2 separate regions of the Homo sapiens genome follow, and region 1 is linked to region 2. A link means that fine-mapping ties the variant in region 2 to the expression of a gene that starts in the linked region. Tissue or cell type: lymphoblastoid cells. Region 2 holds a variant in brackets; the other region holds the start of a gene. All regions are shown on one strand. Distances are from middle to middle.

Evidence for each region. PIP is the estimated chance that this variant, and not a neighbour inherited with it, causes the effect.
Region 1: it holds the start of AKAP3, and the variant in region 2 is fine-mapped to the expression of AKAP3 in lymphoblastoid cells (GTEx, PIP above 0.99).

Annotation. Positions count from the first base shown.
Region 1 is chr12:4,645,510-4,653,615 of GRCh38, reverse strand. It overlaps AKAP3 (A-kinase anchoring protein 3), which reads left to right and starts at 4,565. Exons shown (of 6, transcript NM_001278309.2): 1 at 4,565-4,871. NDUFA9 (NADH:ubiquinone oxidoreductase subunit A9) reads right to left here and starts at 4,502. Exons shown (of 11, transcript NM_005002.5): 1 at 4,441-4,502. The coding sequence starts at 4,489. RefSeq lists enhancers at 4,077-4,732, 4,601-4,810, 5,091-5,140.
Region 2 is chr12:5,596,716-5,604,821 of GRCh38, reverse strand. It overlaps ANO2 (anoctamin 2), which reads left to right. Exons shown (of 25, transcript NM_001364791.2): 20 at 5,193-5,338. Among named protein-coding and RNA genes, the nearest start is that of NTF3, 170 kb to the right of the region's middle. The variant C/T (reference allele first, on the strand shown) is at 4,479.

The sequences.
Region 1 (8,106 bases), 950 kb after region 2:
TTCTGACTTTTAGAAAGTTTAACAGCAAGAGACTTGTCAAACATTCCACCATTTCTTTTTCATTGACTGAGGTTCTTGGTACTAGAATGAACCCTCAAAGTTCATGTACCAATGCTTACATCTTCTCTACAGCATGTGTGCAAAGAAATCATCTGGCTTTTGCCTGAACACCTGTGGAGTTGGGAAACTCACTACTTCCTGTAGCTGCCCATTCTGCTTTGAGCCATTCTAACAGAAAGAAAGTTCTACCACAAGGGGAATCAGTGACTGCTTCCCAGAAGTTTTTATCCCTGTGTTCCTCCAGAATGACAAAGAACAAGTCTAATCCCTCTTCTACAATTAAGTGTAGCAATTATAGCCCCACTAAATATTTTCTTCTCCAGGTTAAACATTCCCTGTCCTGTCAAATATTCTTCATATGGCAGGAATGAGAATCTCTTTTGGATACATTCCAGTTTTCAAGTTATTGCTAACTCCTTAGAATAGAATTTTAGAGTTAGCTGCTCAACTTTCATGTAAGTAGAAACAAAAAGGTTTAAAGTGCTAACGCACTTCTGCTCCAATCAACAAACTTCGGAGCTTAGCATTCGTGCTTTGTACACTTGGGAGAGGTGAAAGACACAAACAGGACTTTCTTTAGAAAATCTGTGTTTGTTTCTAGGGATGACTTTCAGGTGGCATTCTGCCCAAAGGTCATTGTTCTTCCCTATCCAAAAGTATTGAATTGGAGAAATAGCCTAGCTCACTGATAGTGACAGAAATTAAAAGTAAACATCATGGACCACACATCATAATAACAAAATAATAACATCATATTAACAGCTACCTTTACAGAGCTCTTGGCAGGTGTCCAGCATTATTCTAAGTGCTGCATAGGTATTATCTTTTTTAATGCTATCTTTATCACCACTTTATGGATAAGGTTAGTGACTAGCCCAAAGCACTAGTAAAGGAGATTAAAAAGCAGTCCCATGAGGTAGGAGAAAAACTCAGAAGGAAACAGAATCTAAAAACCCAAAATAAGAAACTGTTTCAAGGAGAGAATGGTTAACTTTACCAAATGCTGAAAGTGAAGTAGGAAGAGGACAGAGGACCACAGAAGCTGGAGGATGTGGCTGTAGGTGGCATAAATAAGAGCAATTTTATTGGATTAGTGGGACTGAAAGCCAGACTGGAGCAAACAAGAGAGGCTGTGAGGCAAGGAAGTAGATGAGGAGTATACACAATCCTTCTGAAAAAGGAGAAATGGAACTAGAGAAAACAAGGACAGGAATAGGTTTGTTTGTTTGTTTTAAATATGAGTTAACATTTATGTGCTGATGGAAATGACATGATTTCCATGGTAGAGGTAGAAAATTACTGATTCAGGAAAGGGAATGAATAGTTGAGAGAGGATAAGATTGAATGCAAAGTGAAGGAACTGGCCACAGATTGGAACAGAAGGAGCTCACCCACTGTAACAAGAGAAAAGGCAAAGAATTATCACATATCAACTATTAGAGTTTATGGTGGGAAAATGACTGTTCTCATCTGATTCCTTTGATTTCTCTGTAAAGCTGAGAATGAGACAAAAGCACATGTTAGAGGTTTTAGGAAACTCGCTATGTTAAGTAATGATTATGGAGACAAGGAAACCAAATTTCCTAGAAAAATGTAGCACTGAAAATCTACTTGAGATTTGTATTCATGAATTTAAAATAAGGCCAGTTAGTCTGAAGTTTTCCCTAGCCCCGTTCTCCATTGCTCAGTGGCAGGCAGCAAATTACGTGGAAAGTTTTGTTTAATCAGGGTCAATGTTTTTTACGACAATGGGAGTTGGGCTGGGGAGTTGAGGATGCATAAAAGGGAATGATAAGAGTGAAGAGTAAGGAAATGAGGACATAGGATAAGACAGGCAAAAGATGGCAGAGTCAATGAACTGGGAAGAATTACTTGAGTTGAGGAATTAATACCTCAAAGGACTGTTAAGAGGATTAAACATACATAAACCACGTAGCACATTACCTAGAGCACATTAAGCATTCTATGAATAATAGTTGCTTTTATTACTTTGAAATTTCTCAGAAGGTAATGTCACACTAACCTCACATGGCTATTGTTTTTTTTTAATAATTATGGGCCAAGAATTATTCTAGAAACTGTGACTATCACAGTAAAATACAAAACCCTGGCTTCATGAAGCTCACAGTTTAAAGGGTTAATGAGAATAACATATGGGCAAGCATCTGTCACAGTGCCTTGCAAATACTAGGTGCTCAATAAATATAAATTATTACTCTCTTTGGTTCCAGCCTCTCCACTTTCTTCCATTTATTATGAGTACTATTAGAAGAATGATATTCTTTATTAATTATATATTCATTATATTTCTCTGCTTAAAAACCTACATTAGTTTCCTACTGCAATACCCAAACCAATAGTCCAGACATATTTGCTTGCACACTGCATTAATTTTTTTAAGTATTTATTTAAAAAATTATATGCACGTTCTATGTAGTACCAATATGATATACACATTATAAATCATACATTACTTAGAATAGTGTGTGGCATACAGTTTAAACTACATAAGTGTTAGCTATTATTACTATAGAAAGCAATTTTTAGGAGTTCTAATTTATATTTCCACAACTTATTAGGTCCTCTTGCACAACTCCCTTTGGAGACTACCGATCTAAACTCTGCTTGGCTTTCAAAGGTCTCCATTGTCTGATCCCATCTAACACATTCAACCTCCTTTTCCACTATCCCAGATATTCAGGTAGTCATTTCACTGCCTCTTGAATACCTCATGACTCCATTCTCACCCACTTGTCTTTGCCAGAGGACTTTCCAGATCATAACAGCCCTAAAGAGACCAGTGGGAGCACTACAATTCTCCACTGGTCTTCCAATCATCCCTCAGTACCTCAAATGATACTAATCTTTCCCTTTTATGATTTCCTGTGATACTTAATAGTCTTGCCACACTTAACTATATATAGTTGTCTTACACAGTTCTGTCCTATAGTGTGTGGATTATGTTACATACTAGACTTGCCTCTACAGAATTTACTCAAAAACTTACTTTACCAGACAATAACGCAGAGTGGTTAAGAACACAAGCTATGGTGTCAGTCAGAGGAAAGTAAGTTAAAAGAGGAAAATTAATAAAAATACCTAGAACTGGAGATTGCAGATAGCAGGTACTCAATAAATAGTGATTACCATTCACAATCTACATTACGTCATACAATTGTAATAGTTTAACAAGAACCAGCAAATGTCTTTGCAAAGACATTGTGACTACAAAACCATCCACTATAAGTGATGTGCACCACCACCTTCCCAGTGGTATGCAGGAGTTCTACCCAAGATGGAAAACAAAAAAAAAAGGATCCTCTAAACACTCCTAATTCTTGCCTCAGGCTGAACATCAAGCCTATCTGTGGTGCTTTTAAAAATTTAAGGTGCAAGGAGCTAATCTCACAAATTCTGACTCAATAGCTCTACACTCAGTCCTCATTTCTAATTTTTATAAAGCTTTACGAGTGATTCTGACATGAGCCAATTTTGAAAGCAAATGATATTCTGTAACGACTAAAATACACTAAGAAAAATACAACTTTGGGGGTTTGATTGGAATATGTTTGTGGAAGAGTAGAGGGTGAAAGGACAATGATGAAGTGTAACCGTATTTCTAATTTCCTTGCTTTTTAGTGAGTGGAAGGACAAATGTATGTTTTCAGTTTGAGGAGTGGGAGCAGATCCAATCAGAACAGAAGAGAAACTAAATAATGCTAACAAATTCTAACATAGCCTTCATTCTTCACTTTCCTTTCCACCAAGCTCCTGATTCTTCTCTCCTCAAACATCACTCTCTCCCCCAGACCCCAACGCACTTTGCCGAACACATTCTACATCCGTAGAGACGCTTTTGGGTAAAAGGATGCTTTTACAAATATTAGCTCATTTAATCTTATCAGAGACTCCCTGGTATTGTAATATTATCATTTCCATTGTGCTCATATGAATTGAGACCCATTAAGGGTTTGCACAAGGTCATAAAATCAATCTAAGAAAACCTCTCGCCACTAGCCTTTTTTCCCTCCCTTACACATTTCTCCCCCCGCCCCATACAAATATTTCTCATAACCCTAAACCCTTACAACCATATCAGAATTCTGATTCTCTCGATCCCTAACGTGTCCCCCGCATTCTCCTCTTCGCTTACAGCTGCTTAAGATCTTTTGTCCCCTCCCAAGGTGGTGCACAATTGAATATGTGAGCCGGGGAAGCGGAAAGCGAAAGGAGAAACCAGACTGAGGCAGCTCCAAACCTAGAGAAACCAGAGTGTGCCTAGGAAGTTGGCGTGACCGCTGCAGCACGGTGCCACTTCCAAAACCTTAAATCCCCGTCTCGGAATCCCGACCAGGGGCCGCCGTTCCCGGTAACACTTACGTGACATTGACAGGACCCGGACAACCCGGGATTGTGCGGCAGCCGCCATCTTTTCCCACAATCCCCCACGACAGCACTCCCGGCTGACTACGGCTGCTAAGCTGGGTCAAAACTTACCTTTCTCGCCTGTCTGCGCAAGCGCTAACCAAGAAACGACGGTTTCGGGTAGATTGTTGGTTAAGAAGAAAGCTGGGAAAGTGAAGGAGAGGGGGAAGAAAGGAAGTGAAAAGACTTTGGCTGTTGGAATCTCAGATCTGGAATAGGCTGTATAGGCTATTTATAATCTCTAATTGCCGAGGAACCTGAAGTTCAGAGTTAACCAGTGACTGACTCAGGACATGCAAAATGGCAAGACCCGAGGTAGAAGAGCTCACCTTTCCTGACTCTCAGTTTCCTGTTCCCTGAAAATGTAAGCTAAGCTGGCAGCCCTGGTGAGTCCGGAGGAAGAAGGAGGCGTAGCCCTCCGCGCTCAGGAGATCCAGGGCCCAGGAGAGAGAAAAGGGGGGACAAGAACGAGGGGAAAAGTGGAGAAGAGAAACCAAAATAGGGTGTGTCCCAAGTAAATAAATGTGCGTCGAGCCCGCCAAGCACATTCTCTCATAGGGACCCTTGCGCCTGCTGTTCGCGTTTCCTGGAATGCACACTCAGGTGTCTGCACCAGCTCAAGTCTCTGCTCAAAAGTGACCTCTTCGGATAAAACTTCTCTGACCATCCTATCCAAGGTGGTAATTATTCCACCAATTTTTGGTTTAAGTTTATATACCAAAGCACTTATCACCAACTAGCATATGAATCTAGGAGTTCTTAACCAGAAGTGTGATTCATGAGTGGGCTTCGGGAAATCTGTGAACTTCCTGAAATATTATGCAAATTTAGTGGCCATGTGTGCCATCTGAACATCTGTCTAAGGAGAAACTGCAGATGGCTCTCTCTAGCGCAATGGCTTGTAATTTTTTCTTTAACTGTGGTCACCTTTGAGAATCTGCATTGTTCTACAAAGAGCCATCTAGAAACTGAGGAAATTCCAGGTTAGACTAAGCGCTTGGATTTTAAAATACTTTATTCTGGTCAACCTCTCCAGATTGCTGGGTAGGAGATGGCAACCAGTGATCCTGTGAAACATACCTTAGGCTTATCAGAAAACCACCTAGTTTGGGGAGGGCGGGTTCTTTCTAGACTTGGTAATCCTTCCAGTGCTTTGTTTTTTCAGGAAAAGTATGTGTTTCTGGGATAGACAAAAAGGCCTGTGATGAGTAGGGATGTAGAAGTTGCTTATTACTAGGCTTGAAATCTTGGCTGTTTCCACTCTATCTTGCCCCTACTGTTTACTGAAGTGTCGCCTAACAAATTGAATTGGAAGAGAGAAAAAAACCTTGAATTTCATCGGAGAAGCTTAGTAGTAACGCTACACTGTCATATTTCTTGGCCTTATCCTATGTTCACTTAACACAATTTGCTAATACTTGATTTTGGGACCAATATGGATACTAACATACTTTCCTTGTTCGGATCAACAGATCCTGACTGTCATCAGCAACCTGCTTACTCCTGTATAACACTGCCAATTATATAATTTAAAATCTCTAAGTTAAACACTGCCTCATGTTCTCAGTTCTAGTTTCAAGGTTGCATGGTGTAATTAAAAGAACACTGACTTTTTTTTTTTTCAGAGATGGGGTCTTACTGTATTGCCCAGGCTTGTCTCAAATTCCTGGGCTCAAGACCTCCTCTCACCTTGGCCTCCAAAAGTGCTGGGATTACAGGCATGAGTCACTGTGCCCAACTGAAAGAACACCGATTTTTAACACCTAGAATACTAGATCCCATCCCCAGTTTTGTCATTCGTTAGCTGTGACCTGGACAAGTTTCTACACTTGTCTAACAGGGTAAATAAAACCTACCCTGGTACCTCAAAAGGTTATTATGAGAATCGGGTGGCGTAATGGATGCAAAGATGCTTTGTCACCCGTAAAGTGCTATATGTAGGTCCATGCAGTACTATTCAAATACCACTGAAGTATCAAAATCATAGAATGTTAGAGCTGGAAGAGATTTTAGGAGCTCAGCAAGCCCCATTATTTCAAAGACGAAGAGGCCAGGTGCGGTGGCTCATGCCTGTAATCCCAGCACTTTGGGAGGTCGAGGCAGGCGGATCACTTGAGGTCAGGAGTTCGAGACCAGCTTGGCCAACATAGTGAAACCCAGCCTCTACTAAAAATACAAAAATTAGCCGTGTGTGGTGGTGTGCACCTGTAATCCCAGTTACTCGGGAGACTGAGGCACAAGAATCACTTGAACCTGGGAAGCGGAGGTTGCAGTGAGCCGAGATCGTGCCACTGTACTCCAGCCTGGGCGAGAGTTGAGACTCTGTCTCAAAAAAAAGAAAAAAGAAACTGAGATATTTTGACAAATATAATTTGACTAGTAGGTGCACTTTCTGTGAAAAGAATACAAAAGCTCTTGAGACAATATAAAAGATCATCAATGGATAAATAACTTTTTTTTTTTTCAAGTCTCACTCTGTCACCCAGGCTGGAGTGCAATGGTGCTATCTCTGCTCACTGCAACTTCCGCCTCCCAGGTTCAAGCAATTCTCCTGCCTCAGTCTCCCGAGTAGCTGGCATTACAAGCGTGTACCACCATGCCTGGCTAATTTTTTGTATTTTTAGTAGAGACAGGGTTCTGCCATGTTGGCCAGGCTGGTCCTGAACTCCTGACCTCTAGTGATCCGCCTGCCTCAGCCTCCCAAAGTGCTGGCATTACAGACGTGAGCCACTGTGCCCAGCGATAAATAACTTTTTTGAAGGAACCCTGTGATAAACCAGCCGCTTTTGAATCTGTTGCAATTTTCATCATTATCTCGTGGCCATGCTTGGAATTTCTTTTTGCTCCATGGAAACTATATACTAGTCCTATATTTAATCATTAATTACAGAGTAGCTGAGGTAACATTTTCAGAGAATGTAGTAATAAAGCATAGAAAGAGTAGCTAACCAAATGCCTCTTGGTGTGATTTTTCCCACTACAGTTTCTCAGGTCAGGCATTGCAAATGATAAAATAGGGTTATTGTATCTCTGAAGATCTAAGACAAATTATAACCCAGAGATGGTCAGTTTAGGCAAAATATCCTAAAAATAATTTTTTTACAGAAGGCAAGATGCTTATAAATAAAAAGAGTCCTGGCTGGATCTGACAAAATGAAGTGATTCCATGGGATATGCATAAAATTTAGACCCTCAATTCTTTTATTTCTCATTCTCCTCTGCCGTCCTCTAGATTTGTTAATACATAATACTTACTCTGCTGCTTTAAGTGGAATCCATTGGCAAAATGTCCCCTTCCCGTATTCCCCCACCTATATTAAACACTCTAAAGCAGAGGTCCCCAACCCTCAGGCCATGGACCGGTACCAGTCCATGGTCTTTTAGAACCTGGCCACACAGCAGGTAAATGGTGAGCAAGTGAGCAAAGCTGAGCTCCACCTCCTGTCAGATCAGTGGTGGCATTAGATTCTCATAGGAGCTTGAACCCTATTGTGGAAAGTGTACGTTGTGCACTCCTTATGAGAATCTAGTGCCTGATGATCTGTCGCTGTCTCCCACCATCCCCAGATGAGACCATCTAGTTGCAGGAAGACAGGACTCCCACTGATTCTATATTATGGC
Region 2 (8,106 bases):
AGCCCATCTGTATGTTATACAACTTCCAGGATTCCTGTTAAATTCTGCTCTGGAGGGACTTCCTTTATTATTATTTTTTTTAATGGTCACTGGGATATCCAGGAGGAAATCTGGGAATGATAAATTCACAGGACTATTTGTGGATATTTTCCCCTGCATTTGTTTTGACCTACCCACACTGGATGGGACTTTGATCACAAAGCCCCTCCCGTAGCCCCTGTGTCTTCCCTTGCCTTTGCCACACAGTCTTACAGTTGCCTTCTGTTCCCATGACTCTCCTTCTTTGTCCTTTGAAGGCTCCTTTCCCTCTATCCCATCCCATAACTTTTCTGACGCACGCTCTATCCATAGTTGGCATTGCTCATTCCTAGGGCTTCCGCCGCTCTTTCCACGATGATTCTCAGATCTCCATCAGTCCCAGATCGTTCCAGGGCTCTAGGCACAGATATGCAGTTGCCTACTGGACATCTCTACTTAGTTGTCTCGTGGGTTTCCCCACTTAGACATGGCAAGAACAACTCCTCCTCCTCCTCCTCCTCATCCTCATCAAAACTGCCTCTTACGTTGTATTCTCTATCGTAGCCATCGGCACCACCAACCACACACATGCCCTAAGACCATGAGAATCATCGCTGATTCCTCATTGTCCTTCCCTTCTGTGTACGATCCACCATCCACTTTTTAATTCTACCTCTTATGCATGTCTCAAATATATCTACTTCCCTTCATGTCCGTTGCTATCACCCCAGACTCTGCTACCATAATCTCTCGCCTGAACCACTGCATAATATGGTGTACAAGGTCTTTGATGCCATGAGCCTACACTACCTTTCAAGACTTACCTTTCATCATTTTCTTTTTTTTTTTTTTTTTTTTTGAGACGGAATCTCGCTCTTTCACCCAGGACGGACTGCAGTGGCGCTATCTCAGCTCACTGCAACCTCCGCCTCCCGGGTTCATGCCATTCTCCTGCCTCAGCCTCCCGAGTAGCTGGGACTACAGGCGCCCACCACCGTGCCCTGCTAATTTTTTGTATTTTTAGTAGAGGCGGGGTTTCACCGTGTTAGCCAGGATGGTCTTGATCTCCTGACCTCGTGATCTGCCCGCCTCGGCTTCCCAAAGTGCTGGAATTACAGGCGTGAGCCACTGCGCCCGGCCTCATCATTTTCTTGATTGTACTCTATGCTGCAAGCATTTTGAATTCCCTTCAGTCCTTTCTATGAGCCATTTTCACATTTGCCTTAGGCTGTTGCATAAATAACTCTCCCTGCCTAGAATAACCTCTTTGCCCCTCACACTCTCTCCACCTTTCTCTTTCTTCTTCTACCATCTTTCATTATTTAGTCTTAAATAGTAAGAGTAAATTATTTATTTAGTAAATTAAGTTAGTTTACACATCTCTTCCTCAAAGAGAACTTCGCTGCCTTAGGCCAGGTTAGGACTTTTATGTTCTCATAATCACTAAACTTCTCCCTTTATAACACTCTTATATTGGTCACTCTTGTTTTATTGGTCGTTATTGGTCACTTTTGTTTAAATGTCCCCATTGCCAGTGAGATTATTTCATCAAACACATCACATGTCTTATTAGTCACATTTTTTTTTCCTGGAGATGATTTCTAGGAATCCTCTGTTCTCCCGGGCAAACCAGAACTGCTCATTTGCTAAACCTTCTATAGAGCTATCAAGCTGAGTTGCTTCAATACCTTCTTTCTTTTGTGGGGTTTCTGTTTGCTGGATTCTGTATGTTTTCTTCCTTGCTTTATATCCTTGGTTGGTGAAATTCATCCTCCAGGAGCTTCATGAGAATGGATGCATGCATAAAAAGTTCATTTTTTTGAAACCTTGCATACTTAAAAGTGTCTTTAGTCTGTCTTTGACTTTCGTCTATACTTTGGCTGGGTATAGGAGTCTATGCTGAAAATTATTTGCCTTCTGAATGTAAATACATTTCTGCAGAGTCTTCTAGTGTCAAGGGCTGATCTGGAGAATTGTAACCTATTTTTGATTCCCAATTATTTGTAGAGGATCTATGTTTGTTTCTCTGGATCTGGAAGCTTTTAGAATCCTTTCCATTATTCCTAAAGTTCTGAAATCTCATGACGATATGTTTTGCTGGAGGCTTTTTTTTCACCATTATGCTGAGTGGGTCCTTCCAATCAGAAAATGCATGTCCTTCACCTCTGGGACATTTTCTTTTATTTCTTTTGCACTTTCTTCCCCACCATTGTCTCTGTCTTCTCTTTCTGATTAAGTGTTGGAGTTTCAGGCCGGGTGTGGTGGTTCGTGCTTGTAATCCTTGTACTTTGGGAGGCCTAAGTGGGTGGATCATCTGAGCCCAGGAGTTTAAGACCAGCATGGGCAATATGGTGAAACCCTGTCTTTACTAAAAATACAAAAAATATTAGCTGGGCCTGGTGGTGCATGCCTGTAGTCCTAGCTACTTGGGAGGCTGAGGTGGGATGATAGCTTGAGCCTGGGAGACAGAGGTTGAAGTGAGCCGAAATCACACCACTGCACCCCATCCTGGGCTATGCAGCAAGACTCTTGTCTCAAAAAAAAAAAGAGTTCCTAGATCAATTAATTTTTTAATGTTTTCTTTCCTATTGTCCATTTCTATGTCTGTTCTACTTTTTTTCCGAGAGATAGTATTGATTTTAATCTTTCTGTCATTTTATTGAATTCATTTCAGATCTAGATTTTTCCTGGCTCATTTTTCTCTTCAGAATAAACTTCTTGCCCCTGTTGGTATTGGGAAGTGCTAGTCACCTAGGCAACATGCGTACAGAGCCATTGGCGTCTACTGTTCCTTAAGCAGAGCTTTGACCAGTCACCACCCCCTGCCTTGGGGATACCTGGTGCCTCCAACTCCTGAGCCTTTCTGAGATTTACAGCATGAGTTGGCTTGTTTCTCTCTACCATCTTCCACTGTGAACAGTTGATACCAGTCACACAGCTTTGCTGACTCCCTCGTACACTGTCCGTCTTCCAAGATATTCATCAACATTCCTCACACACTACTATATTCATGACTATTTTCATTAATTTGTGGTTTTATACTTTTTAAAATTCATTCATTGGTATTTTAGTGGCATTTCAGAAGTGGATAAATATATGTTTATATTCAATTTTCTATGTATAATCAAAACCACTAATTTTTTACTAAAGATTTGAACACGTCGTCTGATTACTGTTCATGGAGGAGAAGTCTCACTTTGAATTCTGGTTCTAGACTTCCCTCACTTTCCTTTCTTCTTTTCTTCTCTCTCTCTTTGATTTTTCCTGCATCTTCTCCTTCTGTTCTGACTCACAGACAGGATCACAACCAGCTCACATATTTAGCTTCAGAATCTGTAGGCTCCATCTAGTTTTTTTTCAATTTTTTATTATCACAGAATTATTGCTTACTTTTTTCTTAGAAATTTTTTACTATGAAATTTTTCTTATGAAATTCTAAAGAATTTCAGCTCACTCTTTAAATCCTTCTGTGATAAAGATGATAATAGGAACAATGATATATTTGTCTATCTTTATTTATCTTGATAAATGTCTATCAGAGCATGTATCTTGGTACATGCTCTTAACATGTATCAAGCCCTAAATGAAGCATGCTGTATAGATTATGTCTTTTAACTCACCCTGTGGGCAAGTTAATATTTATTTCTCCATTTTAAAGATAAGAAAACTAAAGCTTATAGAGTTGTAATAACTTGCCCATGGACATATAGTTGGTGATTTGTGAAATCTGGTTTTATACAATTTCTGGCACCAAAGATGAGACTTTTATCCACTATACTACATCCTCTTGATAGGAAATAGGAATATTAGACCAGAAACTGATCAAAACATTATTTTGAACTATTAGATTTTCATTAGCTGTTAGAGGCACTTTCAAACAAGGATGGGATGCCTAATCATACCAGAAGTGCTCCTCTGGAAATATCTACACAGGGGTTGGGTGGTCTTGGGTGAAGAATGTTGGGGGACATGGGGAGGTTCCTACATCCAGATGAAGCATGGACTTCAAAATCCCGTTTAAACACTTCAAGTCTTTGATTCTTACCATTTTACTGTCTCCCAACTATTAGGTTGCTGCTTAAAGTAATTGCAGTTTTTGCCATTAAAAAGTAATTGCAAAAACTGCAATTCCATTCCCTGTACATTGTGCATCAATGGGAAGTATGAAATAACTCCACCCTAAGGTGTATTTTAGCATTCGGTATTAAAAATAATAACAGGTATCATCTATTCAATGCTTACTGTGTCCAGATATTGTGCTAAGGACTGTATAAACATTGTTTCACTTAATTCTTATTTCAACCCTGAGAAATTGGGCCATTATTATCATTCTACACCAAAAAAGTCCTGAATGTAGTTGTCTTAGTCTGCTCAGGCTGCTGTAACAAAATGCCATAGGCTTAACTGACAGAAATTTATTTTCTCATAGTTCTAGAGGCTGAAAGTTTCAAGATCAAAGT[C/T]GAAAAGGGTTGAATTTCTGATGAGGGCTCTTCTTACAGGTAGCTGCCTTTTCTCTGTGTCCTCAGATGGTCTTGAGATATCCCTTTCTCTCTTCCTCTACTCATAAAGCCACCAATCCTATTGAATTAGGACCCCACCTTTTTGACCTTATTTAATCTAAATTACCTCCTAAAAGTCATATCTCCCAATACAGTCACATTGGGGATTAGAGCTTCAACAAATGAATTTCAGCAGACATCATTCAGTCCATAGTAGTGGTGGGCAATGTTTAGCTTGGTTTTAATGGAAAGATGATGCTATTAATGTTATTGAGACCTGAAAAATGTTTCACCTAGGAGGAGAACAGACCTGTGTTCCCCCATGAAGAGGGTGGATAGATCACCTGTTGGACAATAGGACTGGTGCCGTCTCAGCATTGGCAGGAAGGGCCAACTCTCTTGTTGCTTGTCAGACAGCAGGAAGAATTCAAAAGTATTTTGGGGTTTGAAGAAACCTCATCCTTTGTGGAGGGAGTCTGCACGATCTTTATAAAGGACTTCCTCAGGTTGCCTTTAGGAGAAAAGTAGTCTCTTTAGTGTCTCTCTATCTCTACTTGTTTTTGGATCAGAGATGGCTTTAGTGTCAAAACTTTTGTGTTCTTTTTCTTTTTTCTGTCTGCAAAACCAACCCTGTTCTCCAGAGGCTTTTTGTAACTTAATCCATTTCTTTTCCAGGAAGCTAAAGAAACTATTTCGAAAGCTGAAAGATGAGACCGAAGCTGGAGAAACTGACTCTGCCCATTCGAAACATCCAGAGCAGTGGGACCTAGACTACAGCTTGGAACCATACACAGGACTGACTCCGGAGTACATGGAAATGAGTGAGAACCCATGGTCCTGCCTTCCACTGGGGGCAGGTTCAGACAAGGGGTCTGTGGGGTTGAAGGGGGAAGGTAGGGGATTGGGGAAAATGACTGGGACAGCCTCTGCTTCTTCATGAGCTTCATGGCTATTCAGTGTTCCCTTCAGTGCCACATGAAAGTTGAGAAGAATGGGGCAGAAAGAGACCTGGGAGGAGAACCTGGAGCAGCTCAGTCAACAGTTTGGTGGATAATTCTAGGATGATGTTCTCTTTTCCTTGTGATTCCTCTCCTCATCTATAAACTAAAGTTTGATCTCTCAGGCCCCTTTCCATGGTTTCTATTATTGATAAAGCTGAAAGGGAAATAGTACAATCTGAAATTTAAGAATATAGTTTCCATGAAAGTCTTCCTTCATGGAAAGTATCCGATGACACTTGGGTCAAGGATATCTACATTTTGACTTGGAGAATATATAAGAGCATCCCCTACTTTGATCAGATAAGGCTGGATAAGATGAAAGCTTTTTAACAAAAGTTGGGTCTATTTCGGTAGGGAGTGAGAGGTGTATTTCTAGTTGCAGAGCCTCTAGTTGTTTTCGATAAGGCTTGAAGGCAGGAGCACATGTAGTACAGGCTGATGGAACACAATCATTTTAGATGTGGCTTGGAAGCCATGAGTTCTTTATTATGAGAAGGGTCCCAACTTAGGCCAGCTGCCTTTGCACTGTTGGCTACTTGACTATAATCCTGATCTTCTATTGGGATGGATGTTTGAGAAGTCTCTTTCCAAGACTTGGGGCTAATGAATTAAAAGCATAGGATACCAAAGATCAAGAGCTTAGGTATAAGACGAGCGCAGTGGCTCATGCCTGTCATCCCAGCACTTTGGGAAGCAGAGGCAGGTGGATCACCTGAGGTCAGGAGTTTGAGATCAGTCTGGCCAACATGGTGAAACTCCATCTCTACTAAAAATACAAAAATTAGCCAGGAATGGTGGCAGGCACCTGTAATCCCAGCTACTTGGGAGGCTGAGGCACGAGAATTGCTTGAGCCTGGGAGACACAGCTTGCACTGAGCTGAGATTGTGTCACTACTCCAGCCTGGCCAACAGAATGAGAGTCTGTCTCAAAAATAAATAAATAAAGATCTTAGCTATAATGTCTAAACATTCTAAACATTTACTCAATGGGGAACCATCAATAAGATCCATCAAAAAAATCACTCAATGTTTAATTCAGTGCTTAGTATCATTGCACCTATCACTGTGTTTGCATATGACTCCTGCTCCCTTCACCTAGTCACTTGTAGCAGAGGGCCGTCAGTACCTTTTTGTGCACAGGCTACCTCACTCATCATTTCTAATGGGCATTCCTCCTATTCTGTTATAGGAAATTGCATGTGTTTGTTAGCAGTGGAGTAATGGGCAGGGTCTAGATCAGACGGCCATGGAAATATTGTCCTAGCCCTGGGATGTCTACAATTCTAGGGAAAGCCTCAACTTTGTAATCTGAAACAACTCACCAGAGAACAAACAATCATTAAGTCTGCTTCAGAAACAATATGTAAAGAAAATATCAAGACCTGGTTTAAGGAAACGTGTAGCCCCTTTATGCCTTTCATGTTTGGCTAAGAGCTACCTCTAATCCCTCTCTGATGCTGTATTTACACAAAGGATATTGCTCATATTTCAGACGCCATTCTACATCTGCCATTCTCTCACCCAGAATGAAAGAAAGTGCTGCCAGAGATTGGGACTTCCATTTGGGGAAGGGCCTACATTAGGAACCCCTGAGATCTGTTTGTCTGCCTCCACCCTCTGACGCCAGTGGTCCCACTTCCGTCGCCACCAATTAGCTGTGTGGGTTTCACATGCTTGTCAACCTTGTCTGTTCAGCTATTTCAAAGCTTCCTCTTTTGGGTGATTAGAGCAGAGACCCCAAAGTTTTCTAGTTTATGTATATAGACGTGTTCATAATAGCAAAGAATACATTCCACCTAAATGCTCATCAATGATAGGCTGGGTAAAGAAAACGTAGTACACTGTGGACTACCATGCAGCCGTGAAAAAGAATGAGTTCGTGTTCTTTGAAGGAACATGGATGGAGATGGAGGCCATTATCTTTAGCATACTAATGCAGGAACAGAAAACCAAATACTGGATGTTTTCACTTATAAGTGGGAGCTAAACCATGAGAACACATGGACACACAGAGAGGAACAACACACACTGGGGCCCATCAGAGGGTGGGGATGAGAAGAGGGAGAGGATCAGGAAAAAGAACTAATGGGTACTAGGCTTAATACCTGGGTGATGAAATAATCTGTACAACAAACCCCCATGACACAAGTTTACCTGTGTGACAAACCTGCACTTGCACCCCTAAACTTAAAAGTTAAAAAAAGAGAAATAAAACATTAAAATACAACAAAGAGGAGCAGAGACCCTTGAACCATACTTCCTGGGCTCAAATCCCAGCTTTTGACCAACTAGCTGGGTAACCCTGTGTAAGTTACCCACTTGCCCTTATCAAGACTCCTATGTGTCTTGATTTGCTTGCCTATTAAAAAAAGATAATAATATAATAGGATTGTCAGGAGTAGTGAATGAATTAGTATCTGTGAATAGAAGAGGGTCTTAGTGCTTAGTGCTAATACAGTGCTTAGAAGAGGGCCTAACACATACAAAAGCTGTGTATTAAGTGTCCAGTGTTATTCCTCTTAATGGTCTTGAAGCCTGAGGAAGGCAGAGTTAGGGAAATATACTCTACTTTGTCAGGGCCATGCCAC